Linked DNA regions of Homo sapiens. The gene in region 3 interacts genetically with the main gene of each other region. Each region holds a gene or a part of one and is shown on either strand. Other genes may lie near its edges.

What was found.
Region 1: of NOL3 (region 3) and CFLAR, changing one suppresses a phenotype caused by changing the other (phenotypic suppression), as found in Homo sapiens cells (one study listed by BioGRID).
Region 2: of NOL3 (region 3) and CASP8, changing one suppresses a phenotype caused by changing the other (phenotypic suppression), as found in Homo sapiens cells (one study listed by BioGRID).
Region 4: of NOL3 (region 3) and TNFRSF25, changing one suppresses a phenotype caused by changing the other (phenotypic suppression), as found in Homo sapiens cells (one study listed by BioGRID).

The regions. Positions count from the first base shown.
Region 1 is NC_000002.12:201,163,988-201,172,385, reverse strand, and holds part of CFLAR (CASP8 and FADD-like apoptosis regulator), read right to left. Parts: 3' UTR 1-8,398. UniProt on the Homo sapiens protein: Apoptosis regulator protein which may function as a crucial link between cell survival and cell death pathways in mammalian cells. Acts as an inhibitor of TNFRSF6 mediated apoptosis.
Region 2 is NC_000002.12:201,270,513-201,278,910, reverse strand, and holds part of CASP8 (caspase-8 isoform 2 precursor), read right to left. Parts: intron 7,396-8,398; coding exon 7,290-7,395; intron 6,274-7,289; coding exon 6,135-6,273; intron 6,014-6,134; coding exon 5,969-6,013; intron 5,809-5,968; coding exon of another isoform or gene 5,711-5,808; intron 4,023-5,710; coding exon 3,958-4,022; intron 3,389-3,957; exon of another isoform or gene 3,275-3,388; intron 2,085-3,274; coding exon 1,943-2,084; exon of another isoform or gene 1,369-1,942; intron 1-1,368. UniProt on the Homo sapiens protein: Thiol protease that plays a key role in programmed cell death by acting as a molecular switch for apoptosis, necroptosis and pyroptosis, and is required to prevent tissue damage during embryonic development and adulthood.
Region 3 is NC_000016.10:67,168,012-67,173,639, forward strand, and holds the start of NOL3 (nucleolar protein 3), read left to right. Parts: upstream 1-2,526; 5' UTR 2,527-2,563; intron 2,564-3,140; exon of another isoform or gene 3,141-5,628. Other genes in the region: HSF4 (heat shock factor protein 4), read left to right, coding at 820-925, 1,025-1,090, 1,268-1,337, 1,620-1,774.
Region 4 is NC_000001.11:6,458,307-6,466,092, reverse strand, and holds the end of TNFRSF25 (tumor necrosis factor receptor superfamily member 25 isoform 2 precursor), read left to right. Parts: coding exon 1-24; intron 25-532; coding exon 533-653; intron 654-870; coding exon 871-1,005; intron 1,006-1,373; coding exon 1,374-1,541; intron 1,542-1,639; coding exon 1,640-1,718; coding exon of another isoform or gene 1,719-1,722; exon of another isoform or gene 1,723-1,982; intron 1,983-2,945; coding exon of another isoform or gene 2,946-2,965; coding exon 2,966-3,021; coding exon of another isoform or gene 3,022-3,028; intron 3,029-3,122; coding exon 3,123-3,230; intron 3,231-3,426; coding exon 3,427-3,464; intron 3,465-3,918; coding exon 3,919-4,099; intron 4,100-4,330; coding exon 4,331-4,659; 3' UTR 4,660-4,907; coding exon of another isoform or gene 4,908-4,913; 3' UTR 4,914-5,307; downstream 5,308-7,786. UniProt on the Homo sapiens protein: Receptor for TNFSF12/APO3L/TWEAK. Interacts directly with the adapter TRADD. Mediates activation of NF-kappa-B and induces apoptosis. May play a role in regulating lymphocyte homeostasis.

The DNA.
Region 1 (8,398 bases), on a different chromosome or scaffold from region 3:
ATGTCACAATCCCATGCCACAAACTACTTACACTTCCAATATAAAAACTATATCAACAATAGTTTACATCACGTTCATTGCTTGCTAAAGTAAGGTCATGAATGTATCAAAATATTTTATAAAAGTTAAAATTTAGGAGATCCATCATTTCTCTTTTCAATCCATCACTGATTCATTCAATATATATTTATGTGTATGCCAGGCTCTTCATCAGGTAAAGTGTTTAGGAGAGATATAAAGATAAAACTGATGAGAATTCTGCACTTGAGCTACAGCATACTTTCCAAGAATTACAGCATGAGATATAAAATGAAAAGAAGGCTTGGAGGAGATTCACACGAAATAGTACTGTTCAGGAGAGGGGGCGATAATTCCAATGGAAGAGATAACTGACTTCATGGAGGATAGAAGGAGATGGTATTTGAACTGCCCTTGAAGTATGGTTATATTTTGGGGATGTGGAGATGTGGGGTAGGGTGATATGCTGGGGTTCCAGATGGTCCAGAAATATACAATCACCAGAACCAAAGATCCAGAGGTAGGAGATATGAGCTGTTCAATTTGGCTGAGCTAACAGTGTTTGGAGTGGGATCTTGAAGAAGCTGAAAATGAAGATACCAACTAGACAGTCAGAGAAAGACTTCCAATGTTTGACTGAACTGCAATTTTATTGTGTATGCATTGAAGAATCTTTTTTTTTTTTTTTGTATTCTCTAAAGATTTTTAAAATATTTTAAGTTCTGGATACAAGTGCAGGATGTGCGGGTTTGTTACATAGGTAAACGTGTCCCATGGTGGTTTGCTGCACCTATCAACCTATCACCTAGGTATTAAGCCCCACATGCATTAGCTAGTTATCCTGATGCTCTCCCCGCTACGGCCCCTGCATCAGGCCCCAGTGTGTGTTGATCTCATCCCTGTGTCCGTGTGTTCTCATTGTTCAGCTTCCGCTTACAAGTGAGAACATGTGGTGTTTGGTTTCCTGCTCCTCTGTTAGTTTGCTGAGGATAATGGCTTCCAGCTTCATCCATGTCCCTGCAAAGGACATGATCTCATTCCTTTTTTAAAAAAAAAAACAAAATTATTTCCATAGGTGTTTGGGGAACAGGTGGTATCTGGTTACATGCGTAAGTAATTAAGTGGTTACTTGTGAGATTCTGGTGCACCCATCACCTGAGCAGTATACACTGAACCCAATTTGTATTCTTTTATCCTTCACCCCCCTCCCACCCTTTCCCCTAAGTCCCCAAAGTCCATTGTATCCTTCTTATGCCTTTGCATCCTCATAGCTTATCTCCCACTTATGAGTGAGAACATACAATGTTTGGTTTTCCATTCCTCAGTTACTTCCTTTAGAGTAATAGTCTCCAGGTTGCTGTGAATGTCATTAATTCATTCCTTTTTATGGCTGAGTAGTGTTTAGGTGAGGTTATTTGTAAGTAATTAATATTGAGTAAATAAGATTCATCCATAGTGGCAAAGCCACATAACTTCTAAGTATCTTAAACTATATCTAAATGGTACCAAAACATGCAGTCAATTCTAAAAGCTCAGCTAATGATATTTCATAATATAGGAAAATATTCACAACATATTTTTGTGTAAAAAAAAGCAGACTTCAAAATGGAATATGCATTATGATTCCAATCATGTAAAAGCTATACATGAACACATACAAAGATTAACAGATATAAACAAATGGAAGAATGAATGGAGAGATAGATGATAGACAGATTGAGTGGTGGTGGAGAATAACAGATTTAAAAAGAAATTGTGCCTTTCTATATTTTCAAAACCATTTAAATAAGTATTACCTTTGGAGTTAGAAAATGATATGTATTTTAAATCCATAATTCAACTACTTATCTATATGATGTCAAACTGGATTAGGCTGAATTATCAGCAAGTGAATAAAACAGTTCCTTCATCCATGGAGAAACATCCATTTATGACATTCTTGGAATTCCTCTTGTTAGAATTCTTTATGAATTTAAAATAGAAACATGGCCAGACTCAAGATTTCAATACAAACATTACTTTTTCACGTTCAGTAATAACCAATTAAAAGAATTAATGAAAAATCTGATTCACTGTATCACCAAAAGCTGTAATGGCTGCACTGCACAGTATTCCATGGTGTATATGTACCACATTTTCTTTATCCAGTCTATCTTTGATGGGCATTTGCTATTGTGTCTTTGCTATTGTGAAGAGTGCTGCAATGAACAAAAATGTGCATGTATCTTTATAATAAAATGGTTTATATTCCTTTGGGTATATACCCAGTAATGGGATTGCTGGGACAAATAGTATTTCTAGTTCTAGATCTTTGAGGAATAGCCACACACACTTCCACAACGGTTGAACTAATTTACATTCCCACCAACAATGTAAAAGTGTTCCTACTTCTCCACAGCCTCGCCAGCATCTGTTGTTTTTTGACTTTTTAATAATCACCATTCTGACCGGCATGAGATGGTATCTCATTGTGGTTCTCCTTTGCATTTCTCTAATGATCAGTAAGGTTGAGCTTTTTTTTATATGTTTGTTGGCCACATAAATGTCTTCTTTTGAGAAGTGTCTGTTCATGTCCTTTGTCCACTTTTTGATGGGGTTGTTTTTTTCCTTGTAAATTTGTTTTAAGTTCCTTGTAGGTTCTGGATATTAGACCTTTGTCAGATGGATAGATTGCAAAAATGTTCTCCCATTCTGTAGGTTGCCTGTTCACTCTAATGATAGTTTCTTTTGCTGTGCAGGAGCTCTTTAGTTTAATTAGATCCCATTTGTAATTTTTGCTTTTGTTGCAATTGCTTTTGATGTTTTTGTCATGAAACCTTTGCTTGTGCCTATGTCTTGAATGGTATTAAATAGATTTTCTTCTAGGGTTTTTATAGTTTTAGGTTTTACATTAAGTCTTTAATCTTGAGTTAATTTTTGTATAAGGTGTAAGGAAGGGGTCAGTTTCAATTTTCTGCATATGGCTAGCCAGTTTTCCCAGCACCATTTATTAAATAGGGAATCTTTTCCCCATTGCTTGTTTTTGTCAGGTTTGTCGATGATCAGATGGCTGTAGATGTGTGGTCTTCTTTCTCTGGTCTCTATTCTGTTCCATTGGTCTATGTGTCTGTTTTTGTACCAGTACCATGCCATTTTGGCTACTGTAGCCTTGCAGTATACTTTGAAGTTGGGTAGTGTGATGCTTCCAGCTTTGTTCTTTTTGCTTATTGTTGTCTTGGTTATACGGGCTCTTTTTTGGTTCCATTTGAATTTTAAAGTAGTTTTTTTCTAATTCTGTGAAGAATGTCAATAGTAGTTTAATGGGAATAGCAATGAACCTATAAATTACTTTGGGTAGTATGGCCATTTTCATGATATTGATTCTTCCTATCCACGAGAATGGAATGTTTTTTCATTTGTGTCCTCTCTTATTTCCTTGAGCAGTGGTTTGTAGTTCTCCTTGAAGAGATCCTTCACATCTTATTAGCTGTATTCCTAGGTATTTTATTCTCTTTCTAGCAACTGTGAATGGGAGTTCATTCATGATTTGGCTCTCTGCTTGTGTATTGTTGGTGTATAGAATGCTTGTGATTTCTGCACATTGATTTTGTATCCTGAGACTTTGCTGAAGTTGCTTATCAGCTTAAGGAACTTTTGGGTGGAGATAATGGGGTTTTCTAGATATAGTATCATGTCATCTGCAAACACAGTTTTACTTCCTCTTTTCCTATTTGAATACCCCTTATTTGTTTCTCTTGCCTGATTTTCTTGGCCAGAACTTCCAATACTATGTTAAATAGGAGTGGTGAGACGGCATCCCTGTCTTGTGCCAGTTTTCAAGGGGAATGCTTCCAGCTTTTGCCCATTCAGTATGATAATGGCTGTGGGTTTGTCATAAATGGTTATTATTTTGAGATATTTTCCATCAATACCTAGTTTATTGAGAGTTTTTAACATGAAGCAACGTTGAATTTTATTGAAGGCCTTTTCTGTATCTATTGAGATAATCATGTGGTTTTTGTCTTTAGTTCTGTTTATGTGATGAATTATGTTTCTTGATTTGCGTATGTTGAACCAGCCTTGCATCCCAGGGATGAAGCCAACATTCCAAACATTTTATTTATTATTTATTTATTTATTTATTTTTGAGACAGAGTCTCGCACTGTCGCCCAGGCTGGAGTGCAGTGGCAAGATCTCAGCTCGCTGCAAGCTCCACCTCCCAGGTTCATGCCGTTCTCTTGCCTCGGCCTCCCAAATAGCAGGGACTACAGGCGACCGCCACAACGCCTGGCTAATTTTTTGTATTTTTAGTAGAGACGGGGTTTTACATGTTAGCCAGGATGGTCTTGATCTCCTGACCTCGTGATCCGCCCGCCTTGGCCTCCCAAAGGGCTGGGATTATAGGCGTGAGCCACCGCACCCGGCCTCCAAACATTTTAATCTCATAACAATGCATCACTTGGGTTAACTAGGTTGAGATAAATATAAACTGTCAATTTTTTTTCCCCTCACATAAAAGTCCAGAGGTAGGTAATTAGGGCTGACACAGTGATTCCAGTGATTCTGCTCCTTCGTGCCCTCATCCAACAAGGCTTCTTGCTGCTCACTACCCAGCTACCCCTACGTGTGGCCCGTATCTTCATGGTTCAAGATGGCAGCTAGAGCTGCTAGGTAGTTAAGATCTCTCTCACACACTTTCCTTCTGTCATAATTAACACAGGGTTTTAGCTCATGAGGCCAAGCATACACATTACTTCCCACTGGCACCCCTATGTAATATTAAATGCAAAGATACCCTCAGGAGTCCTGTGCTCAAAACAAGTACAAAATAACTTTTTGTTGTTGTTTGTGGTGCTGGTGGTTTTATTTATTTATTTTTTCTGAAACAGGGTCTCACTCTGTCTCCCATGCTGAAGTGCAGTGGTGTGATCACAGCTCATCACAACCTTGACCTCTCTGGGCTCAGGGGATCCACTCACTTCAGCCTCCCAAGTAGCTGGGACTACAGGAACACGCCACCACGCTCAGCTAAATTTTGTCTTTTTTTGTAGAGATGGAGTCTTGCTATGTTGCCCAGGCTGGTCTCAAACTCCTGGGCTCAAGTGATCAGTCCACCTCAGCCTCCCAAAGTACTCAGATTATAGGTATGAGCCACCATGGCATCAAAATAACTTGGAAAGTAGGAATAATTGCTTGTTGTTCCTGAAAACTGTCTCTTCGACACTTTTCAGACTCTGTTACATGATCATGACAAAATATACACAAATAGACATACAGATACACATCAGTTAAAACCTCAAGAAATAGAAAAATAAATAAATCATAAAATATTTAAAAAGTGGTATTCTGACACACTGCCCAGAGGTACCCCTGTTCAGCAATTTTAAAAAATTTTAAAAATAGCCCTCTCCCCCTCCCTCTCTTCTCCCTCTCCCCACGGTCTCCCTCTGATGCCGAGCCGAAGCTGGACTGTACTGCTGCCATCTCGGCTCACTGCAGCCTCCCTGCCTGATTCTCCCGCCTCGGCCTGCCGCGTGCCTGCCATTGCGGGCGCCGCCACGCCTGACTGGTTTTCGTATTTTTTTGGTGGAGACAGGGTTTCACTGTGTTGGCCGGGCTGGTCTCCAGCTCCTGACTGCGAGTGATCTGCCAGCCTCGGCCTCCCGAGGTGCCGGGATTGCGGGCAGAGTCTCGTCCACTCAGTGCTCAATGTTGCCCAGGCTGGAGTGCAGTGGTGTGATCTCAGCTGGCTACGGCCTCCGCCTCCCAGCCGCCTGCCTTGGCCCCCCAGGGTGCCGAGATTACAGCTTCTGCCCGGCCGCCACCCCGTCTGGGATGAAGTGAGGAGCGTCTCTGCCCGGCCGCCCATCGTCTGAGATGTGGGGAGCGCCTCTGCCCCGCCCCCCCGTCTGGGATGTGAGGAGCTTCTCTGCCCGGCCACCCCGTCTGAGAAGTGAGGAGCCCCTCCGCCCGCAGCTGCCCCGTCTGAGAAGTGAGGAGCCCCTCCGCCCGACAGCCACCCTGTCTGGGAAGTGAGGAGCGTCTCCGCCCAGCAGCCACCCCGTCTGAGAAGTGAGGAGCCCCTCCGCCTGGCAGCCGCCCCGTCCGGGAGGGAGGCGTGGGGGTCAGCCCCCGCCCGGCCAGCCGCCCCGTCGGGGAGGGAGGTGGGGGGTCAGCCCCCGCCCGGCCAGCTATCCCGTCCGGGAGGGAGGTGGGGGGCGCGTCCGCCTGGCCGCCCCATCTGGGAAGTGAGGAGCCCCTCTGCCCAGCCGCCACCCCGTCTGGGAGGTGTACCCAACAGCTCATTGAGAACAGGCCATGATGACGATGGCGGTTTTGTGGAATAGAAAAGGGGGAAAGGTGGGGAAAAGATAGAGAAATCAGATTGTTGCTGTGTCTGTGTAGAAAGAAGTAGACATGGGAGACTTCATTTTGTTCTGTACTAAGAAAAATTCTTCTGCCTTAGGATGCTGTTGATCTATGACCTTACCCCCAACCCTGTGCTCTCTGAAACATGTGCTGTGTCCACTCAGGGTTAAATGGATTAAGGGCAGTGCAAGATGTGCTTTGTTAAACAGATGCTTGAAGGCAGCATGCTCCTTAAGAGTCATCACCACTCCCTAATCTCAAGTACCCAGGGACACAAACACTGCGGAAGGCCGCAGGGTCCTCTGCCTAGGAAAACCAGAGACCTTTGTTCACTTGTTTATCTGCTGACCTTCCCTCCACTATTGTCCTGTGACCCTGCCAAATCACCCTCTGTGAGAAACACCCAAGAATGATCAATTAAAAAAAAAAAATTTAAAAATAATAATAGGCCAGGTGCAGTGGCTCACACCTGTAATCCCAGCACTTTGGGAGGCCGAGGCTGGTGAATCACCTGAGGTCAGGAGTTCAAGACCACGCTGGCCAACATGGTGGAAACCCTGTCTCCACTAAAAATACAAAAATTAGCCGGGTGTGGTGGCAGGAGCCTGTAATCCCAGCTACTCGGGAGGCTGAGGCAGGAGAATCGCTTGAACCCAGAAGGCAGAGGTTGCAATGAGCCAAGATGATGCCACTGCACTCCAGCCTGGGCAGCAGAATGAAACTCTGTCTCAATAATAATAATAATAATAATAATAATAATAATAATAATAATAATAAGCAACTCTAATGATATTTCAAACAATGGTCCCCTTTTAGGTCACACTATCAAATCAGAGAAAGATATACTTGACTAGCTGTAAAATGCAATTTGAGGTCTAGGTGAATGAACAAGTAACCTCTAAATCATAAGGCTATTGTTACAAACTGAATGTTTGTATTCCCCCCAGAATTCAAAGGGGAGACAGTATCCCCAAAGTGACAGTATCAGAAGGTGGGGCCTTTGGGAGGTAATTAGGTGATGAGGGTAGAGCCCTCATGAATGGAATTTGTGCCCTTAAAGATATACTTGAGAGTTTGCATCCTCTTTTTCTGCCATGTGAGAACATCAAAAGACTGACATCTGGTAAGATCTGGAAGCATGCCTTACCAGACACCAGATATGCTACCACTTAGATGTTGGATTTCCCAGCCTCCGGAACTGTGAGAAATAACTGCTGTTTAAGTCACCTGGTCTATGGTAATTTGGTATAGTTGCCCAAATGGACTGTGATGGTTAATACTGAGTATCAACTTGATTGAATAGAAGGATGCAAAGTGTTCCCGGGTACATCTGTGAGGGTGCTGCCAAAGGAGATTTAACATTTGAGTCAGTGGACTGGGAAAGGCAGACCATCCTCAATCTGGGTGGGCACCATCTAATCAGCTGCCAGCACTGCCAGAATAAAAGCAGGCAAAACATGGAAAGACTAGACTGGTGTAGTCTTCTGGCCTCCATCTTTCTCTCATGCTGAATGCTTCCTGCCCTCAAACATTGGACTCCAAGTTCTTCAGCTTTGGGACTTGAATTGGCTTCCTTGCTTGCAGATGACCTATTGTGGGACCTAACCCTGTGATCATGTGAGTCAATACTCCTTAATAAACTCCCCTTTTTATATACATGTATCCTATTAGTTCTGTCCCTCTAGAGAAACATGACTAATACATTGAGTAAGATAGTTCCTGTCCTTTTTTTTTTTTTTTAAAGAGATGGGATCTTGCTATATTGCCCAGGTTGGTATGCAGTGGCTATTCGTAGGCACAATCACAGCATGCTATGACCCTGAACTCCTGGGTTCAAAAGATCCTCCCACCTCAGCCTCCCAAGTAACTGGGAATACAGGTACCCACACCCACACCCAGCTAATTTTTGTATTTTTACTAGGGACAGCGTTTACCATGTTGGCCAGGCTGGTCTCGAACTCCTGACCTGAAGTGATCTGCCCTCCTTGGCCTCCCAAAGTGCTGGGATTACAGGTGTGAGCCACTACGCCC
Region 2 (8,398 bases), on a different chromosome or scaffold from region 3:
TTTTTTATTCCTTCTCCAGCATTTTGTCCCTGTCAGCACATCAGAGCTAAACATAAGTCATCAGTCAAAAGGCAGTCTCAGCCAGGTGCAGTGGCTCACACCTGTAATCCCAGCACTTTGGTAGGCCGAGGCGAGTGGATCACCTGAGGTCAGGAGTTCAAGAACAGCCTGACCAACATGGTGAAACCCCATCTCTACTAAATACAATTAACTGGGTATGGTGGCACATGCCTGTAATCCCAGCTACTTGGGAGGCTGAGGCAGGAGAATCACTTGAACCTGGGAGGCAGAGGTTGCGGTGAGCCAAGATCATGTTATTGCACTGCAGCCTGGGCAACAGAGTGAGACTCTGCCTCAAAAAAAAAAAAAAGAAAAAATACAGTCTAGCATTAGGAATAGAAAAAAATAACTGAAATGCAATAGGCCCTTGTTGATTTGGAAGCACTTTGGCAAGACTAATACAGTGTGTTGGTTCTGTGAAAAAAATTCTGATCCTTTGGAAATGTGGAATGTTGATTAAAAAAATGACTGTAAAGCAAGTCTGAAGGCACTGAAGCAGGACAGAAGGGAGTCTCTCAGGAGAAATGACTTCTGCAGCTGGGTCTCCTACTTTTACTCATTCAGCATAAAACATAAGAACAGGAACAGAAAAAGCAGGACACACAGACTCGAATGCCTACCAGAGACTAGTCAATCATGGGCCAGTTATAAGAAAATGAGCTGCCAGAAATAGAAGCAAATGTTATTTTAATAGAAATGTTTTAATTTTAAAAGAATACAAATCAAGGGTCCAAAATATTTTTTTCAATACCAAGCGCATAGTGACGAATGATGTAATCAATGGACTTAATCTCTGTGCCTTTTTAAAGGCTTAGATTTGCTTAAATAAACAAATCAAATGTTAGCAGGGACCAGGTACAGGTGGCTGACACCTGTAATTCCAGCACTTTGGGAGGCCGAGGCAGGCGGATCACTTGAGGTCAGGAGTTCAAGACCAGCCTGGCCAATATGGCAAAACCCCATCTCTACTAAAAATACAAAAATTAGCCATGTGTGGTGGTGTGTGCCTGTAGTCCCAGCTACTTGGGAGGCTGAGGCAGGAGAATCACTTGAACCAGGGAGGTGGAGGCTGCAGTGAGCTGAGATCACACCACTGCACTCCAGCCTGGGCAACAGAGTGAGACTTTGTCTCAAAAAAAAAAAAAAAATGTTAATAGGGGCCATTACAGACTCCTGATGATTATAATCAGTCTACATTAATTTTCTAAACTTACCTCCATTTGCAAAACAAATCAATAATTGATGTTATGCCTGATAAACACTATTTCCAAAAGTTCTTTGATCAAATCAAAATTATTAATCTCTCAATGGTGATGGATGATTTTTATTTTTTGTTGTTGTAGTCACTTTTTATATTCACATACTACAAATTGTTTTTTCATTTAACTTGTAAGTTCTTGATCTTAGCTTAATTTGGCTGAGCAAAAGAATTGCTAACCAGTTTAATATTTAATACTTGAAAATGCTATTTCTGTTAAGAACCCACAATTTCTGCTGCACTTAACAGCCCAACCTGTAAAAATGCAGCCTCTATAAGAACTTTGATACCACAGCAATTTCATCGCCTAATACATTCCACAGAAGCGCTATGCATTTAGCTGAATTCAAAACAAAGCTTATTACTGCTTTTCATTATGTCTTTTAGTAAGATTTGATATTTTATATTTATACATACATTACTTTTATTTAAAAAATTAATTTTTAAAAAAAGCAGGAAACTGATAAATGTATAAGAATGTTCTTTACCTCCACAGGGAAATATGTTTAAATCCATTTTCTTGAAACATGGCCCTTTTGGTATAGCTTTTGTTCTCTCCCTTTTGATTTAAAAAAAAATAGGCATAAGAAATATTTTACTTTTCTCTTTTGGGTTCTACTGTACCTGCATCCAAGTGTGTTCCATTCCTGTCCCTAATGCTGTGAAGTTTGGGCACTTTCTCCCGTGCTTTTGCAAAATTGTGATTGTTGATGATCAGACAGTATCCCCGAGGTTTGCTTTTCATTTGGTAAACTTTGTCCAAAGTCTGGAAAACAAAAACCCAACCCAGGAGCTGACTCTGTGGGTCAAACACTAGAGATGTAAACAAACAACTCCCTAGTAAGAGGACTTGCTTTCCATTGCACCACCCCAACTCGGGGTCGTTTCCTCGAAGAACTAGTTTCTACCTATTTCCTTCACACAGGACCTCTCAGACTTCTGCCCCATCGTTGTAAAGTCAGTGTCCCAATACCTGGGCCTCCTGAGCACTTTGCACATATATTAATATTGTTGTCATCACATTGTATTATTGTTTGTTCTCATTTCTGCTTCCCATACTATACAGAAGACTCCTTGAGGTTCATAACATCTGTGCCAGGGACTACGGTGTATTAACTTGTGAGAGCTCAATCAAGAGTCACTGAATGAATGAATGTCTTTGGCTGCCCCCACGCCATGACTTGTGATTCTCTTGGCTGTCTACTGAACTCATCTGTGCTTCGTGGCTAACAGCTGAGGGTCTCCCATTCATGCATTGCACAGTGTGGTCCCAGGATTTTAAAGGTGATGGCTTAACCCAGCTCTCAGGACCACGGTGGCTGCTGGGAAGAGATGGGCTGGTCAGGGAGGTCCTGGCTACACTGTAGGTTATGGTATCCAAACTGTAGTACCTGATAGTACTGGCCAGGGATGGCGCTGTGTCCTATTCATTCTCCTAGGGCTGTTTCAGTACCGAGAAACTCAGCATTTAGTTGGAGGTCTGCGTAGCCCCTTGAGGTGGAGAAAAGGACTCCAGGCTAGGAAGCCCAATTCCTGCCTCTACTTCACCTTATGACTTTGGGCAAATAACCTGTTATCTTAATATGTTAACTCTAAGATATTAAATATTTGATTAAGTTTGTACCAAGTATGTTAAGTTTTTATTATTTACAGTTGTGTTCTAAGTATTTATTAAGCATATTAAGTGTATTTACTGAGATACTAAGACACTAAGATTTGGCCAGGCACGGTGGCTAGTACCTATAATCCCAGACTTTGGGAGGCCAAGGCAGGAGGATTGCTTGAGGCCAGGAGTTCGAGACCTGGCTTGGCAACGTAGCAAGACCCCTGTCTCAATAAAACATTAAAAAAGGAAAAAGATACTAAGATTTACTAAGATATTAAGACAGTGTTTTTAGCTCTTCAGTGGGGACAATGCTTGTAGCATGCTATACTGTTTAGAAAGTACCACATTACTTGGGTTAATCCTTGACTTTCAGATGAAAGAGGTCTGGTAATTTTCTCAGGAGCCCACACTAGTGAATAATCTCTCTCAAGCCTACTTCAGATATTCAGGATTTCCTCTTCTTCCTACCATGAGGAGGAGCAGATCGTCTAATAAGTCAGGATGTATTTGGTGGATTGTTGATTACATAAAGAGAAGTTATTATGCCTAAAAATTACATGTTTCTGCTGGTTCACTGAGACAAAAACACAGAGATGGCTAGATTGTGAGAGTTTGCTGCTTACACCTCATCACCAAGGAGAAGCATTTTTGAAACATTAAGCTAAAGGAAAAGGCTTGGCTTTTTCCATTCCTGCTAGACTCTTTCTCCAAACCACTCCCCCATCCAGGCTGGCACGGCTGCTAGAAGATTTGGTAGGAGGCTTATTACCCCCTCCACCCTCCAACTATTCCAGTATCTTCATCTCGGGTCTTAAAATAAAATTCAAATGTATAGAAAACTGAAGGAGTCACATTTTAAAAATTAAGTCACATTTTTAACTTTTTTTGTGTGAATTTTTTCTACAGTTCTCAAAATTTTCAGTAAGTTTCTGCCCCTTGTCAGTTTATCTGGCAGCAAAAAAAAAAAAAAGCTAACAAATTAAATAACTAGAATCTGTAATGTAAAAAAAAGGATTTGGAGGTTTCCGTCTACCTGTGATTCACTATCCTGTTCTCTTGGAGAGTCCGAGATTGTCATTACCCCACACAACTCCTCCCCTGCAAACAACGAAGAGACACATCTAGAATGAGACATGGCAGGAAAGGTACACTGGTAATGAAATATGTAGCACATAGGACAACATAAGGTCTTTTTTAAGATGAAAATTCAAGCTGGGAACAGGGGCTCACGCCGGTAATCCCAGCACTTTGGGAGGCCAAGATGGGCAGATCACTTGAGGTCAGGAGTTCAAGACCAGCCTGGCCAACATGGTGAAACCCTGTCTCTACTAAAAGTACAAAAAAATTAGCCGGGCGTGGTGGTAGCCACCTGTAGTCCCAGCTACTCAGGAGGCTGAGGCAGGAGAATCACTTGAACTTGGGAGGTAGTGGTTGCAGTGAGCTGAGATCGCACTACTGCACTCCAGCCTGGGCAACAGAGTGAGACTCTGTCTCAAATAAATAAATGAAATAAAATGAAAATTCACAGACTGCCATGAATATAATCTCCTTTCAAGCCAGAGAGATTCTGCAAGCAGGGCAATTAACATGCTTCTGGAAACACAAGATCAAGTTGTCTCCTCGCCAAAGAGAAAAACATACCAAGAAATGCCATAATTTTATATTGCTCCACATGGCCAGGTTGAATTTTTGTGGTATTTGTGAGATACTCATTAATAAAGCCACTAGCTCAGGATGAATTAATGATTTAGTACTTTACTCCTTAAAGTATTCTTAAGGCCTTAGGCTCAGCAGGCAGAGGGGAAAGGGAAGGACAGCCTGCATAGACATTAATCTTTAAAATACATTTGAGTGATCCAAAATGTATTTTACACACACACACCACAAAGAGCCAACGTAAAAATACAATAAAAATATTCATAATATGAATGGAGTGATGGTGTTCTTGGACTTGTAAAAATTTCTCTGAATTTAAAATAATCTTCAATTAGTGTATATAATTTTTCTAATCAGAAAGAATACTTTATTAATTGCCTATAGTCCCAGCACTTTGGGAGGCCCAGGTAGGTGGATGGCTTGAGCTCAGGAGTTCAAGATCAGCCTGGGCAACATAGCGAAACCCCATCTCTACAAGACATACAAAAATTAGCCGGGCATGGTGGCTTGTGCCTGTGGTCCCAGCTACTCAGGGGGTTGAGGCAAGAGGATCATCTGAGTCCAGGAGGTCGAGGCTGTTGTGAGCCAAGATTGCATCACTGCATTCTAGCCTGGGGGACAAAGTGAGACACTGTCTCAAAAAAAAAAAAAGACTATTTGATTAATCAAAATTTTGAAGGAGATCGTTGAGAGCTCTCTCTCTTGGTTCAGCCTCGCTTATCAGGTAGAAAAAGTGAAAGGAAGTTGAAAGGAGTGACTTAGTGTAGAAGGTGTTGAAAGAGAAAGTGACTTAACCAAGAAAATTATGAAACATAATTTAAATCCAGCTACTCAGTGCATAACATGAGCAGCACGTCAAGGAGAAAAAAAAAGCCACATAGAAAAAATGATGTTAAATTACTTACTACTGACTAACTCTGCACCTATTTCAAACTTGCCAGCTTGGGCTACAGGTCTTAGGAGAGCAGGTGCGGCCGGGCGCAGTGGCTCATGCCTGTAATCCCAGCACTTTGGGAGGCCAAGGCAGGCAGACCACCTGAGGTCAGGAGTTTGAGACTAGCCAGGCCAATATAGTAAAACCCCATCTCTAATAAAAATACAAAATTAGCTAGGCGTGGTGGTGCACGCACCTGTAATCCCAGCTTCTCAGGAGGCTGAGGCAGGAGAATTGCTTGAACCTGGGAGGCGGAGATTGCAGTGAGCCGAGATGGTGCCACTGCTCTCCAGCCTGGGAAACAAAGTAAAACTGTCTCACAAAAAAAAAAAAAAAAAGAAAAAGTAGAGCAGGCACGTTAAGATGTGCATGTGGTAGAAGGCTGTGGGGAGGACACATGCAGGTACCAGATAGTAAATTAACTAAATCTTGAAAATGTATCTCCAAGCATTACCATTTGAAAATTCATCAGGACTTCCTTCAAGGCTGCTGCTTCTCTCTGAATTAAAAGGGGAAACCCCAAACAATATTTGATTAGAAACAACTGTGATATGGAGCGATTTGTCAGTTTCAATTTTAGAGTAGGTTTTGCCGATTCCCGGCTGTCAGGTTGTTTCTACCTTTGCTGAATTCTTCATAGTCGTTGATTATCTTCAGCAGGCTCTTGTTGATTTGGGCACAGACTCTTTTCAGGATGTCCAACTTTCCTTCTCCCAGGATGACCCTCTTCTCCATCTCTATGAAAATATCCAGCAGGTTCTAAGAGGAGGAGAAATAAAGTTGGGAATCTGGATTGAGCCCTACTGGTTTTTAGATTAGATTTTTTTTTTTAATTTCCAATTTCTCCAACCAAGGACCTGCCCTTGCTTCCCAAGTTTCTGACAGTTTCTGCTGGTCTCTCACAGCCAGCAGGCTACTAGGGAAGCGATTCCATGTTTTCTGGCCCAGAAAGACAGAAGTGAGAGGATAAAGGAGAAGCCATGTCAGATGTCACCCAGTCCCCAGGCCCTGTGCTCAAATCTCCTGCGAATGCATTACTTGGGGACTGTGAAACAACCTGAGACAGCAGCCCGGTCATCATGGTGACACCCTGGGGAACAGCCTCACCCCCAGCATTGCCTCTCCAGACCTGAGTACATACAGACACACAGACACACACACACAGACACCACATGCACATACACACACAGATACAACACACACAGAGTATACTCAGTGATACACACACAGGGGCATAAATACAATACACACTACACAACACACAGACACACATACCACACAGAGAACACACACACAGAGATACACAGACACACACACCACTTATACAGAGACACACAGAGATACACATATCACACACAAATACAGACACACACTATACACAGAGAAAGGCACACACAGACACGGAAATACACACACAACACACAGACACAATATACACACAGAGTTTCAGGTCCCAGGTTGTTTCGGGGACTGCAGAAGTGGAGGAAATATCTCAGACCCACCGCAGTCTTTCCCAGCTCTGCCGGGTCTGGGCTGCATCTGCACAGCCTCCTTCTCCCGGCCTCTGACTCTGCCTTGCTCCCAATAATTAACATGAGCAGCACTTCGGTCTAAAGGAATCACATCTGTAACACTCGTGCTGACAACTTTCTTCTTCTAGTTAAAAAGTGAGAATCCAGGTTGCTTTTACCAAAATACCCCTCTCTTTGGTCTCAGAAATGCCCCCTGGCTAACCAAGTCTCAGGACTAAATCTCAGTAAGATACCAGGTCTTACCATGTCATCATCCAGTTTGCATTTGGAGATTTCCTCTTGCAAAAGAAACTTAAAAGACCTCAATTCTGATCTGCTCACTTCTTCTGAAATCTGATAGAGCATGACCCTGTGGTGGGAAATGGAGACACTTTAGAAATCTTTTCCCAAATAATTTCCCATTTGATATATGGAGTCACAGTGGGCTTGATTCCAAAGGCCTCCCTTCAACATAAAGCCAGTTAATGGCATGGTTTATGAGTTGAGCCCTTGGAAAGAGGCTGGTGTGGTGACACAGAAGTCTACTGGCTCCTCCCCGACTTTCCCACCCTTAACAATTTAAAGTTCTATCAACTTTTCTTTCAGTTTATTTCAGTTGAGTAAATCTTGTTTTCCTTTTTTTTTTTCTGTAAAATGGAGATTTTGTTGCAATAGCAAAATGCTTTGCCTTTTGGAAATTATGCTTTTCAAAATGCACATTGGCTCATGACTTCCCTAATCAAAACTGGTCAGTATTCTCCCAGTCATTATCTTCAGTAAGACGGCCAAGCATTCGGTTCTGGAATACAAAGTCTCCGAATACATCCCTATCACAGACCAGACCGCAAACACGAAAGGACCTGAAGCCAAACACACCCAGCTGCCCTGCCCTCACCCCTTTCTGTGGTGCCGCTACACCCCATCCCCTTGTCTATCTGCAGAGGCCCATCCATGAACAATCAGCTCAAGCATTGCCTGAGCATCCTCAAAGCTGCATTCACTCCACTATGACTTAGTAACCCCAAAACGATAACACACATAATTGTCTGTTGGCCTGGTGCAGTGGTTCATGCCTCTAATTCCAGCGCATTAGGAGGCCAAGGCAGAAGGAGGATCACTTGAGCCCAGGGGTTTGAGACCAGCCTGGGCAACATAGCAAGACCCCATCTCTACCAAAAACATTTAAAAATTAGCCGGGTGTGGTGGCATGCACCTGTGGTCCCAGCTACTCCAGAAGCTGAGGTGAGAGGATCACTTGAGCCCAGAAGGTTGAGGCTGCAGTGAGCTGTGATCATGCCACCACACTAAAAATAAAAACAGAAAATAATTGTCTGTTTAGAAACTGTTCAAGTCCCCTAGTGGCCAGGTCCGTA
Region 3 (5,628 bases):
TTCCTAGCCATTTGACTCCATGATACTCACCTGATTTCTTGGCCCCAGCATCAGAGTTCTGTGGAAAGCAGAGCCTCCCAGTCAGGGCACTCAGCATCTGCGGAAGGGCTTAGGAACCTACATATGAAATGAGTTCCCTGGGGTGACTGCAAAGTACACAATAGTTTAAGAAGCATTGGTGGCTATGAGGTGGCTCATGCATGTAATCCCAGCACTTTGGGAGGCTGAGGCGGGCAGATCACTTGAGGTCAGGAGTTCAACACCAGCCTGGCCAACATGGTGAAACCCCCCGCCTCTGCTAAAAATACAAAAATTAGCTGGGTGTGGTGGCGTTTGCCTGTAGTCCCAGCTACTCAGGAGGCTGAGGCAGGACAGTCGCTTGAACTTGGGAGGTGGAGGCTGCAGTTAGCCAAGACAGTGCCATAGTGACATAGTGGGTGACATAGTGAAACTGTCTCCAAAAAAAAGAAAAGAAAGAAAGAAGGAAAGAGAGAGAGAGAGAGAAAGAAAAAAGAAAGGAAGAAAGAAAGAAATAAAGAAAGAAGAGAAAGAAGCATGGATATTGATACTTGCATAGGGAGGGGAAGGGTCCCAAAGCCCCAGCTCCACCACCCAAACTTCAGGTCCCAGGTAGGAAGCAGAGGCACTTTCTCTGTGCCATTTATGGCAGGAGTGGGGAGGTTGGGGGTGGAGAGAGGATGGGGATCCTCTCCTATCATTTTCTAAAGATTGGGGGATTAAAATCTTGATGCATCTGGGTTCCTTGGGAACTTAATGCGGGGTGGACACTGCAGGCCAAAAGCAGTTCTGTCTGCACAGGGGGCCTCTGGGCCTGGAAAGCGGGGACAGGAGCCCAGAGAGTCTGCTGCCTCCGATGCTGCTTCAGCCCCCTCAAGAAAGTGTGGAACCTGCAGGGCCTCTAGATGTGAGTACCCCTTCTGCTGAAACAGGGGCATGAGACCTGGTGGGGTCTAGCTCTCTGTGGAGCCTGGGGAGGGCACCACTGACCCAGAGCTCTCCTCAGGTGCTGGGCCCCAGTCTCCAAGGGCGAGAATGGACCCTGATGGACTTGGACATGGAGCTGTCCTTGGTAAGAAGTGGGTCGGGGAGGGCAGAGGCCAGGGGTGGCTGAGTCAAGCCCTCTGGTCCATAGCTGTTCTCTGTGAGCCAAAGCCGTGTCTCTAGAAGAATTGTCACAGTGATTTCCCAGCTGTCCCCCTCAGCTGCTAGGTCCCCTCCCCAGCTGCTCCCTGCGGTTCTCACGCAGATGCAGCCCTTGGTTCCAGAGCGGGGTGAGCCTGAGCTGGCGGTCAAGGGGTTAAATTCTCCAAGCCCAGGTAATGGTTGTGATGACTCCTACCTGGGAGGACGCCGTGATTGGGCTGAGCTACCTTGATTGAGTGAGGGGGCAATCTGCAATTTGCAGGGAAATCCTGAGTTCAGGCTGCACTGCAGAGCGTTCCTTGAGCCACCCATGCCCTCACCATTGGGCGAGAGTGGGGAGGTTAAGAATGGATGTTTTATCCTAACTGAGCAGAAGGCAGGCGGGCAGGGCTCTCCTTCCCTGAAGAAAGGAGGGGGAACATTTCCCCTGGTGAGCGCAGTCCCACTTCTCCTAGGGAAGGACCCCACGCTCGGGGCCCCACTCCTGCTGGATGTCCAGGCGGCCTTGGGAGGCCCAGCCCTGGGCCTGCCTGGGGCTTTAACCATTTATAGCACTCCTGAGAGCCGGACTGCCTCCTACTTGGGCCCGGAAGCCAGTCCCTCCCCCTAAGACCCCGCGCCTCTGAAGGGGCTTGGAACCAGTCCGCCGCTGCACATCCTTCTTGGCTTCCTGGCGCCCCCTATCGGGGGTGAGCGAAGCCCCCACTACTAAATGGCCTCTCTCCACTACCCCGACTATCCCTGCACATAAACTCCGTTTTTTTTTTTTCTGTTTCTGGTCTCTTTTCTCTATCGACCAGGGAGCACAGGAGTTATGGGTGGGGGGTGATTTTGCATTTGTAGAAGCGTCCAGATACTAGGTTTTTAATAGAGGAACCCCAGGAGGGTGGAGGTGCTTGGGGATCCGGTGCCTAGCTCCCTTGCTTAGGCCCGGGTCCAGGGCTGGCGCGGGGCCGCTGCAATCTCTGGGAAGCGGGGGCTTCTGGGTCGCGCTCAGCTCTGCAATGCATGCGTTCTGTGATCCTGGTGAGTTGGTATCCTTCTCTGAACTTCCTCTGTGACAGGCAGAGAAGAGGGGTCGATGACAAGATAGATGGAAAGCACCTGGAAATTGGCAGGCCCTGAGTGGGCGCTGGACGTGTGGGGCCGCGGGCCGAACTGCCCCCTCCTGGCCTCATCTCCTGGTGCGCCCCGGGTGGGGAGGGAAAGCTGACTACATGCACGTCCCCAGCCAGCGCGCGGCCTCCGCGGTGTGGCTCCTAGTGCCCGGGGAAGAACCCTCACCCTCCCTATTCCCAGCAGCCCTGGCCGCCCCGCCCCCGCCGCAGCTGCTGCACCCACCCCCACCCTGCCCGGCCCTTTCTGCACCGTCATCTCCTGCCCCGCCGAGGCTTGACCCGTGAGTGGGGACGCCCAAAACGGGCCAGACCGGGAGCCCCACTCCCGGCTGTGGGAGGGAAGGGAAACCGAGATTGGGCAGAATCAGCGCCCCACCACCCGCTGCGGCGCTCGGGGGTCGGGGGGGCGGGGTGGGTAGGACTGTGGGCCCCGCCCTGCCGCAGGACTCTCAAGCTCTGGGACTGGGTGGAGGGAGGTAAGGGGCGGGGGGGGAAAATCCGTGCAGTCGCACATGCGCAAAGGCTCTTCACTGTCCCAAGACCCTGGCTTCCTGGCCAAAGAGCCCGCGCAGCGAGGTGGGGTTGGGGGCTGGGACCCAGCTCCGTGCCCCGCCACCTGGCTCTCTGGGAAGAATCGGACCTGTCACCCTCGAAGGACTGGCCGCTAAATAACTTCGGTATTGAGAGCTGTGTGAGCCTCAAAGGGAGGGCCCAGACCAGCTGGAGTCTCTACCCCCAGACAGGATAAAGGGCAGGACTTGGGGTCATAGGAGGAGGCGGCTAACATGAAAACAACTTAGGTTGGAGAGAAGGAGGGGCCAATCCAATCTGCACCCTCCCTGTGTCTGTCCCGAGTAGGTGCTGTCCCCCTCTCCCTTCCTTTGCCCACCGATTGGAGGGACACTCTGGAAAACTCAGTTGAAGAAAGCGGAGAGTCTGCGTGTACACAGTGCAATGATGTCAGTTAATGCACTAGTGAGGGCATGTGTTGTTCACGGTACACAGAAGAAGGAACCACCAGCCCTTGGGACACTTAGGCATTGGTGTAGACAAGGGAACATTTGAGTCCTGGACGATGGATAGGTCCACGGAGCGGAGGGAGGAGAAAAGGATTCCAGTCTTAGCGATCAGCATCAGCAAAGGCTCCGAGGTGCCAGAGGCATAGTGAGTTCTCCGATCCCTGGCTGGTGGAGGGAAGCTGGGAAGGGCCTGGCTGTCCAGGGTGGTGGGAGGAGGCTAGAGTAGCCAGACCAGATATTTTGGGTTGTCTCTGATGGGCAGTGGGGTGTGGGGGGGAGGTAGATAGGTATTTAGGATGGAATTCTGCTAGACAGGAAAATATAGTTCAGTTCCTCATAGTTCAGGCTGGAGCAAGTAAGATTCCAGTTTTACCACTGAATCTCTGAGCCTGTCTCCTCATCTGTAAAATGGGAACAGCAATCCTAGCCCAGAGGGTTGTCAAAGTCACTGTGCTATCGGGCCTGGCAGAATGGGAGTGAGAGGGGCTCAGAGGGACTGTTACAGGACATGAGGTGACGATGGTGGGGTGGCAAGGCAGGAGCTGATGGAGACTCACTGAGAAGTGGAGAAGCAAGATTCATCACATACGGGACATAAAGGGAGATGGAGGGGCAGGGGGTAGTCCTGGTCTCGGCCTGGTGGGGAAGGGCTTCAATGGGAGGAAGCCAGGGTGTGAAGTGACGGGGGAGGTATAGTGTGACACCAGAGGGTACTGAGAAAGACCTGGGAGGCAGGATGGCGGCTAGGACTAAATCCTCTCTCCCAGAGAAGGCCGAGCCTCCTAGAGCCAGAGAAGGAGGCAGAGGAGGGACAGCAAAGGGAAGAAGAGATGGGAGGATGCCGTGTGAACAAAGCCAAGGCGGGGAGGAGAAGAAGTTATTATCAGGGTGGGGGTGGGCTGAGGGCATGGTTCAAGGCCTGATGTCTTTGCCTCCTAATGCCGGGGGTCTTGCTGGCTGGGTCAGGCCACTCACAGGAATGGGCCATAATCCTTGGTTGACAATAAATGGACAAAGCAGCTGGGTGCGGTGGCTCATGCCTGTAATCCCAACACTTTGGGAGGCCAAGGTGGGTGGATCACGAGGTCAGGAGTTCGAGACCAGCCTAGCCAACATAGTGAAACCCCGTCTCAACTAAAAACACAAAAAATTAGCTGAGCGTGGTGCGGGCACCTGTAATCTCAGCTACTCGGGAGGCTGAGGCAGAAGAATCGCTTGAACTCAGGAGGCAGAGGTTGCAGTGATGAGAGAATGTGCCACTGCACTCCAGCCTGGGCAACAGAGTGAGACTCTGTCAAAAAAAAAAAAAAAAAATGGATAAAGCAGATTGACTCTCCCTAATAGCCGCTGTTGGTAGAGATAGTCTCTCAAGAGCCAGGCATGGTGGTTCACATGGTGGTTCACAAAGTGCTGGTAATCCCAGCACTTTGGAAGGCTGAGATGGGAGGATTGCTTGAGGCCAGCAGTTCGAGACCAGCCTGATCAATATAGCAAGACCAGGACAGGCGCGGTGGCTCACGCCTGTAATCCCAGCACTTTGGGAGGCCAAGGCAGGTGGATCACGAGGTCAGGAGTTCAAGACCAGCCTGGCCAACATAGTGAAACCCCGTCTCCACTAAAATAAATAAATACAAAAAATATATATAGCAAGACCCCACCTCTAAAAAAAAAAAAAAAAAAAAAGGCTGGGCACGAGAATCACTTGAGCCTGGGAGGCGGAGGTTGCAGTGAGCCAAGATTGCGCCACTGCACTCCAGCTTGGGCAACAGCGAGACTCCATCTCAAAAAAAAAAAAAAAAAAGTCTCTCAAAATAGTGCGATCCATGGAGGAAAATCAGTCCAAGTTCGGCAAGTATTTGTCGGTATCCTGTATGAGCTAGGCCTTGGGTACTTCAAGATCAAACAACAAATGTCTGTAGGTAATTCCCAGGTCAGCAGGGAGCCAGGTGGGTCAGCAGAGAGACAGTCACATTAGGAGTTAGGGCTTCAGTAGGGAGACAGGTGGGTCTCAGGTGATGTCAAGAGATCTTGGTCAGAGCTAGGCCTGAAGAAGATTCTGGTATCTCTGCTCAGGAATCAGGGGACCAGGAAGGGCCAGGAGACTACATTGGGGTTGCACTATGGTGGTGGTGTTGGTGGGAGGGTGTAGAGGCGGGGCTTGTCCTGGAAAGTTGGATATCAGGGTCAAGGTAAGGGGAGAGGGGCAGGGAGGCTCTCAGCACTTTGTGCTCTGGGTTCAGAGGGGACTGGAGGATAGAGTATGGAAGCAGGGAGCTCTGATCCTGGGTTCTGCAGGGCCAAAGCAGGAGGCAGAAGGCTGGACTTAG
Region 4 (7,786 bases), on a different chromosome or scaffold from region 3:
CGGGGCTGCGCGGCGGTGGCGGCGGTGAGTTGAGACGCAGGAGGCTAGGGGCAGCTTTGAGCCCTGTCCCAAGAGCCTCGGTGAAGGAAGGGGCCCCGGGCGCGTCTCCACTCCAAGCCTCACTGGGGGCTGGGTTGGCCGCCCTTTCCGATCTCGTTAAAGGCTCCTCCAGGGCGTAGCCCTTCCACTGAGAGGAAACCCCTCCCAGGAGGGTCTGGGGGCCCCAGGCAGAGCATTATCAGTGTCCCTCCCCCAACAGAAAGCATGGGTGGGGGTGGGGGCGCTGCTGGATTCCTGCTCTGGTGGAGGGGAAACTTGTGAGGGGCTGGTAAGCGCCCCCTCCGAAGCCTGGTGTGTGCGCGGGGGGAAGGAAGTTAGTTTCCTCTCCACCCATGGGCACCCCTTCTGCCCGGGGCCTGGGAAGTGGGCTGCTCTGTGGGCAAATGCTGGGGCCTCTGAAATGGAGGAGACGCAGCAGGGAGAGGCCCCACGTGGGCAGCTGCGCTGAGAGTCAGCAGCACCTGTCCCCCAGGCGCTCCTCCTGGTGCTGCTGGGGGCCCGGGCCCAGGGCGGCACTCGTAGCCCCAGGTGTGACTGTGCCGGTGACTTCCACAAGAAGATTGGTCTGTTTTGTTGCAGAGGCTGCCCAGCGGGTAAGTGGCCACAGGGGTGGGAGAGGCATGGGGCAGGCAGGGCTGGAGAGGTGGCGGGCAGGCCCGGGAGGTAAGAGGAGGCTGGCAGGGGAGGTAGGGGTAGGCTGACAGAGAAGTAGGGAGCTGGAGAGAAAGAGGGAGGGAGGGCAGGGTGGGAAGCAGGTCGGGGGTTGCTGGGCAGCCCCTCTGCCTGCCTGACCCCTGCCTGGTTCCACAGGGCACTACCTGAAGGCCCCTTGCACGGAGCCCTGCGGCAACTCCACCTGCCTTGTGTGTCCCCAAGACACCTTCTTGGCCTGGGAGAACCACCATAATTCTGAATGTGCCCGCTGCCAGGCCTGTGATGAGCAGGGTGAGGGGCTTCTCAGTGCTTGGCAGGGAGTTCCTAAGGACAGGCCTTTCTGAAGGAAGTGGCTGGCTCGGGCCCAAACTTGGGGTGTGAGGGTCCTGCACCCACCCTTGCCAGAACCCTCCACCCTGATCCTCCTTCAGGGTGCCCTTGCCCCTTCTCTCTTCCTGGTGACCTTCCCATCTCTCCATGTGCCTTGGCCTCTGGTCGGCCTTAATCTCTGAGCTTCTCTCTTTTTTAGGGTAGCCCTGTACCTGTCTGTCTTTCGCCTATTTCTGTCTCCATTATCTTGGGATAATGCCTCTGCCTCTCCATGGGAGCCTTTGGCCCTGACTAACTCTCCACTCCCCATCTCCCTGCACCCCCACCAGCCTCCCAGGTGGCGCTGGAGAACTGTTCAGCAGTGGCCGACACCCGCTGTGGCTGTAAGCCAGGCTGGTTTGTGGAGTGCCAGGTCAGCCAATGTGTCAGCAGTTCACCCTTCTACTGCCAACCATGCCTAGACTGCGGGGCCCTGCACCGCCACACACGGCTACTCTGTGAGTACCCCCACCCAGGGCTCTCTACTCCCAGACCCCCTTCTCCCTGCCTGACCCACTCCTGTCCCATGGTGACGCATGCCTCTCCTGGATTGCAGGTTCCCGCAGAGATACTGACTGTGGGACCTGCCTGCCTGGCTTCTATGAACATGGCGATGGCTGCGTGTCCTGCCCCACGTAATTCCTAGCTGTCGTGGGATGGAGGGAAGGGCGGCTGGGAGCAGAGCAGGGGCCTGGGGTGGGGCAGGTGCTGCTGGTTCAGGAATAGGAAGAGGGGATAGGGAGGAGGGAGCCTTGGCCCTGTGATGGGTGGGCCCCACTTCAGGCAAACTTAGATGGCAAAAGAGCAATCTGGATCCGCCTTAGCCAGATACATAAGGGTATTTGCCTTCACTTTCAGCCAGCATTCCCCCCAGCGATCCTAGCCAGATATTACAGATGATTTGTCACTTACACAGAGAGTCACATTGATATAGCTTTAAAACTTGGGCTGAAGGAGGTTGAGGCTGCAGTGAGCTATGATCGTGCCACTGCACTTCAGCCTGGGCAACAGAGCGAGACCTATTAAATAAATAAATAAATATTAAATCTATTAAATATTAAATATTAAATCTATTAAATAAATAAATACAAAGGGCTGAGAGTCAGGACTGTGCTGCTAGTTCTCTAGGGGATCTTGGGCAAGTGCAGAGAATTCGCGTCTCTGATGTGTGGTGTCCCTTTCTCAACATGGGATGTTAGCAGCTAATTCACAGGCCTTTGATCAGAGGTAAGGGACTTTCTGTAGCTATTCAAGTCTTTTTTTTTTTTTTTTTTTTTTTTTTTTGAGATGGAGACTTGCTCTGTCACCCAGGCTGGAGTGCAGTGGCACGATCTTGGCTCACTACAACCTCTGCTGCCTGGGTTCAAGTGATTCTCCTGCCTCAGCCTCCCAAGTAGCTGGGACTACAGGAGCCCACCACCACCCCCGGCTAATTTTTTGTATTTTTAGTAGAGACGGGGTTTCACCGTGTTAGCCAAGATGGTCTTGATCACCTGACCTCGTGATCCACCCGCCTTGGCCTCCCAAAGTGCTGGGATTACAGGCATGAGCCACCGCGCCCGGCCTCCATTCAAGTCTTTATTGAATATCTGCTATGTTCTACACACTGTTCTAGGTGCTGGGGATGCAACAGGGGACAAAATAGGCAAAATCCCTGTCCTTTTGGGGTTGACATTCTAGTGACTCTTCATGTAGTCTAGAAGAAGCTCAGTGAATAGTGTCTGTGGTTGTTACCAGGGACACAATGACAGGAACATTCTTGGGTAGAGTGAGAGGCCTGGGGAGGGAAGGGTCTCTAGGATGGAGCAGATGCTGGGCAGTCTTAGGGAGCCCCTCCTGGCATGCACCCCCTCATCCCTCAGGCCACCCCCGTCCCTTGCAGGAGCACCCTGGGGAGCTGTCCAGAGCGCTGTGCCGCTGTCTGTGGCTGGAGGCAGAGTAGGTGGTGTGCTGGGAATGCGAGTGGGAGAACTGGGATGGACCGAGGGGAGGCGGGTGAGGAGGGGGGCAACCACCCAACACCCACCAGCTGCTTTCAGTGTTCTGGGTCCAGGTGCTCCTGGCTGGCCTTGTGGTCCCCCTCCTGCTTGGGGCCACCCTGACCTACACATACCGCCACTGCTGGCCTCACAAGCCCCTGGTTACTGGTAAGTACACACACCCACACACGCACCCAGAAGCCTGGGGTCAGGATGGGTAGCCCAGAGTCTACTCAACCCTGATACAGAAGGGGAAACTGAGGCAGGGAGTGTGGGGTGCAGAGGAACCCTAGAGGAGCTGTACCAGCACCCAGGTCCAGGAGGCTTGCCTGGTGGCTGACCGCAATCTCTCTGTGTCTGTCAGCAGATGAAGCTGGGATGGAGGCTCTGACCCCACCACCGGTAAGAACCTCACTGTGTGATTCTGGGCTGCCTTCTGGAGCTGGAAGATCAAGCCTTACTATGATCCCTGGAGCTTGGCACGCGGCCAGCACCGGGTAGCCCTAGTGGACAGAGGTGTTGGGAGCAGAGTCATCAGTGGATGAGACCAGCACAGTGCCTGCCCTCAAGGGGTGCTCAGTCAGCTGGAGTTCAGATTCGTACACAGGAGCTAACAGTTCAATGGAAGGAGAGCCCCATGGTGCTGGGGGACAAGAGGAAGGAGGCGGGGGCAGGGGACTCAAGGCAGAAGCAAGAGTTCTGCTGGGCTACAGTGAGAGCAGGGCCAACTGTGGGAGGTGTCATTGCGGGGGTGTCTGCTGACTGAACCAGGGACTGTCCCCTCCTGGAGAGGCACTGCGGGTAAGGGGCCTTACTTGGCAAGCAGGGCTGACCTGGGGCCCCTCTTGGCTTCCAGGCCACCCATCTGTCACCCTTGGACAGCGCCCACACCCTTCTAGCACCTCCTGACAGCAGTGAGAAGATCTGCACCGTCCAGTTGGTGGGTAACAGCTGGACCCCTGGCTACCCCGAGACCCAGGAGGCGCTCTGCCCGCAGGTGACATGGTCCTGGGACCAGTTGCCCAGCAGAGCTCTTGGTAAGGGACATCAGTGGCCTGAGGCCTTGACCCCATTCTCCTGTCTGCGGTGGGAAGTTGTGGTTTCACAACGTGTTCCCTTTCTGCCCCCTAACTGACGGAGTCCGCCCTATGCCCTGACCCACCGGATCCAGCGGGCTTCAGCCCTGGGGTACCCGCACGAACGCCCCTGACTCTGCCTCCCGACCGCGGCCCACGTACCCCAATTGGCTCTCTCTGGCCCTGCCCCAGGCCCCGCTGCTGCGCCCACACTCTCGCCAGAGTCCCCAGCCGGCTCGCCAGCCATGATGCTGCAGCCGGGCCCGCAGCTCTACGACGTGATGGACGCGGTCCCAGCGCGGCGCTGGAAGGAGTTCGTGCGCACGCTGGGGCTGCGCGAGGCAGAGATCGAAGCCGTGGAGGTGGAGATCGGCCGCTTCCGAGACCAGCAGTACGAGATGCTCAAGCGCTGGCGCCAGCAGCAGCCCGCGGGCCTCGGAGCCGTTTACGCGGCCCTGGAGCGCATGGGGCTGGACGGCTGCGTGGAAGACTTGCGCAGCCGCCTGCAGCGCGGCCCGTGACACGGCGCCCACTTGCCACCTAGGCGCTCTGGTGGCCCTTGCAGAAGCCCTAAGTACGGTTACTTATGCGTGTAGACATTTTATGTCACTTATTAAGCCGCTGGCACGGCCCTGCGTAGCAGCACCAGCCGGCCCCACCCCTGCTCGCCCCTATCGCTCCAGCCAAGGCGAAGAAGCACGAACGAATGTCGAGAGGGGGTGAAGACATTTCTCAACTTCTCGGCCGGAGTTTGGCTGAGATCGCGGTATTAAATCTGTGAAAGAAAACAAAACAAAACAAAAACGGCTTCTTGGCGTTTCTGCGGGGCTGGGGTGTTAAGTGGACTGGACTTTTCTCGAGGGATTCGAAGGGGACGGGAATCTTGTCACCCCGGGATCTGGCACCCATGGTGGAGTCCAGTGTGGCCTTAGCTCCCAAGCCTGCCCCTCCCGAGTCCACTCTGGCTCAATTACCCCGAGAAGGAGAGAGCAAGTCGCGGCCACAGCGAGTGAGTGAACCGGAGCCCAGATGAGAGCGCTTTAATGGGGCTGCGAGGTGGCGGAGACAGGGTCGGGATGGGGTGCAGCAGTTGGAGACACAGGGTCAGGGCCCCTCATCCTCTATTCACTCCACCGGGGCAGTGAAAGGGTCCCGGCAGCGAGTGGGTCTGGCTGGGGACGGGGCGCAGACTTGAGGGAGGTGGGGCCAGAGGTGGGGTCCCGGGGGCCACAAGTGCGGCCCGGCCAGACAGGCAGTTTTCATGTTTCTGGTAAACAAATGACTGAGAGGAAACCCTTGGCGGGGATAAGAAATGAGGCCCGGGCTAGGCCGCGCGCAGATCTGGGTCAGAGAGGAAGGGAAAACCCCTTCCCCGAGCTCGGGGCCTGCCTCCACCCAGGATGCGCCAGCGACGCCGGTTCCGGGGTGCGGGGGAGGGGGCTGCATCCTGGAGGGGGCTGAGCCCCGCAGGAAAACAAAGTCACCACCCACGGGGCTGGGGAGAGCTCTGCACTCTTTGATAGTCAACGAACATGCAAATATATGTAAGTCGGCATGCAAATAAGCAGCATTTGTTGTTGTTTGCGTCAGCAGCTTGGGCACTTTTTCTGGGCAACCGTGGCGGCGTGTGCACTCCAGTGTTGCCAAGGGCTGGGGATACGGGGGGCCAGGGTGGGGGTCAGGGAGGGTTTCCAGCGCAGGAGGGGAGGGCTGTGCGGCTCCCAGCCTTTCCACCAGGGCCTGGCTGGCTGGGGCTGGGGCGGAGGGCCCCACGGAGCTGCGAGGCTGCGGACAGGAGTCTGCGGCCTCTAGTACTTAGCGATGTCCCCCTTCTTCAGGATGACCTGTCGCTGCCAGGGCGCCAGCTTGCTCTCATCGTAGCCCAGCGTCCGCAGCTTCTCTGACTGTTCCTTCTCCCGCCGCAGCTCCTCCTGCTTCTGTCGCTCCTCCTCTTTCCTGAGGCAGTGGGGAGGGGGGCAGACCCGGTGAAGTCTGGGGCCAGATACCCAGGCTGGCAGAAAGGGTGGGGCCAGGCACCAGGCAGAGGCCAGGTCACCCATGCAAGGGGTGGGTTACTGAGGGCTGGGGCTCGGTTGCTGAAGACAGAGGGGCTAGATTGGGGGCAGAATGGGGTTACTGGAGCACAGGGGAGCTGGGTGAGTGGGAGGTTAAGGCTGGATTATTGTGGGCTGGGGTTTTACTGGAAACAGAGGTGCTGGGTCACTGTGTGGCACCATGTGAGGAGGTGGTATTGCTGGGTGCAGCAGCAAGATTACTGGGACCAGGACTTGAGTTGTGGGGGAGCTGTCAATATGAAGTATTGAGGACTGGGGTGGGGCTGCTGGGGAGCAGAGAGACCATATAATTGAGAGAGGGACTGAGAATTAGAGACAAGTTATTAGAACATAGAGGGTAGATCTGCCTGTTGACAGAGTAGTCACTAAGCACATGTGGCTGCTGAACATTTGAAATGTGGCTGGTCTAAATTGTGATGGATTGCAGGTGTAAAATGTGCATGATATTTCAAAGACTAAGTTTTATTATTATTTGAGTCAGGGTCTCGCTCTGTTGCCAGGGTGGAGCGCAGTGGTGAGATCATGGCTCACTGCAGCCTCGACCTCCTGGGCTCACGTAATCCTCCCACCTCAGCCTCCCAAGTAGCTGGAACCACAGATGTGTGCCACTACGCCCAGCTATTTTTTTTTTTTTTAATTGAGACAGAGTCTCGCTCTGTCACCCAGGCTGGAGTGCAGTGGCACGATCTCGGCTCACTGCAACCTCCACCTCCCAGTTTCAAGTGATTTTCCTGCCTCAGCCTTCTGAGTAGCTGGGATTACAGGAGCGTGCCACCATGCCCAGCTAATTTTTGTATTTTTAGTAGAGACGGGGTTTCACCATGTTGGTCAGGCTGGTCTTGAACTCCTGACCTCAGGTGATCATTCTGCCTCCGCCTCCCAAAGTGCTGGGATTACAGGCGTGAGCCACCGAGCCCAGCCCGCCCAGCTAATTTTTTTTTTTTTTTGAAATGGAGTCTCACTCTGTTGCCCAGGCTAGAGTACAAAACGGCGTGATCCTGGCTCACTGCAACCTCCGCCTTCCAGATTCAAGTGATTCTGCTGCCTCAGCCTCCCGAGTAGCTGGGATTACAGGCATGCGCCATCACGACCACCTAATTTTTATATTTTTAGTAGAGACAGGGTTTCACCATGTTGGCCAGGCTGGTCTTGAACTCCTGACCTCAGGTGATCCACCCGCTTCAGCCTCCCAAAGTGCTGGGATTACAGGTATGAGCCACTGCGCCCAGCCCCCTGCAGCTAATTAAAAAAAATTTTTTTTGCAGGCCTGGTGCGAAGGCTTACGCCTGTGATCCCAGCACTTTGGGAGGCTGAGGCGGGTGGATCACCTGAGGTCAGGAGTTCGAGACCAGCCTGACCAACATGGCAAAACCCGGCCTCTACTAAAAATACAAAAATTAGCCGGGCGTGGTGGCGGGCGCCTGTAATCCCAACTACCAGGGAGGCTGAGGCAGGAGAATCACTTGAACCCAGGAGGTAGAGGTTGCAGTGAGCCAAGATTGTGCCACTGTACTCCAGCCTGGACAACAAGAGCAAAACTCTGTCTCAAAAAAAAAGAAAAAAGCCAGACTTG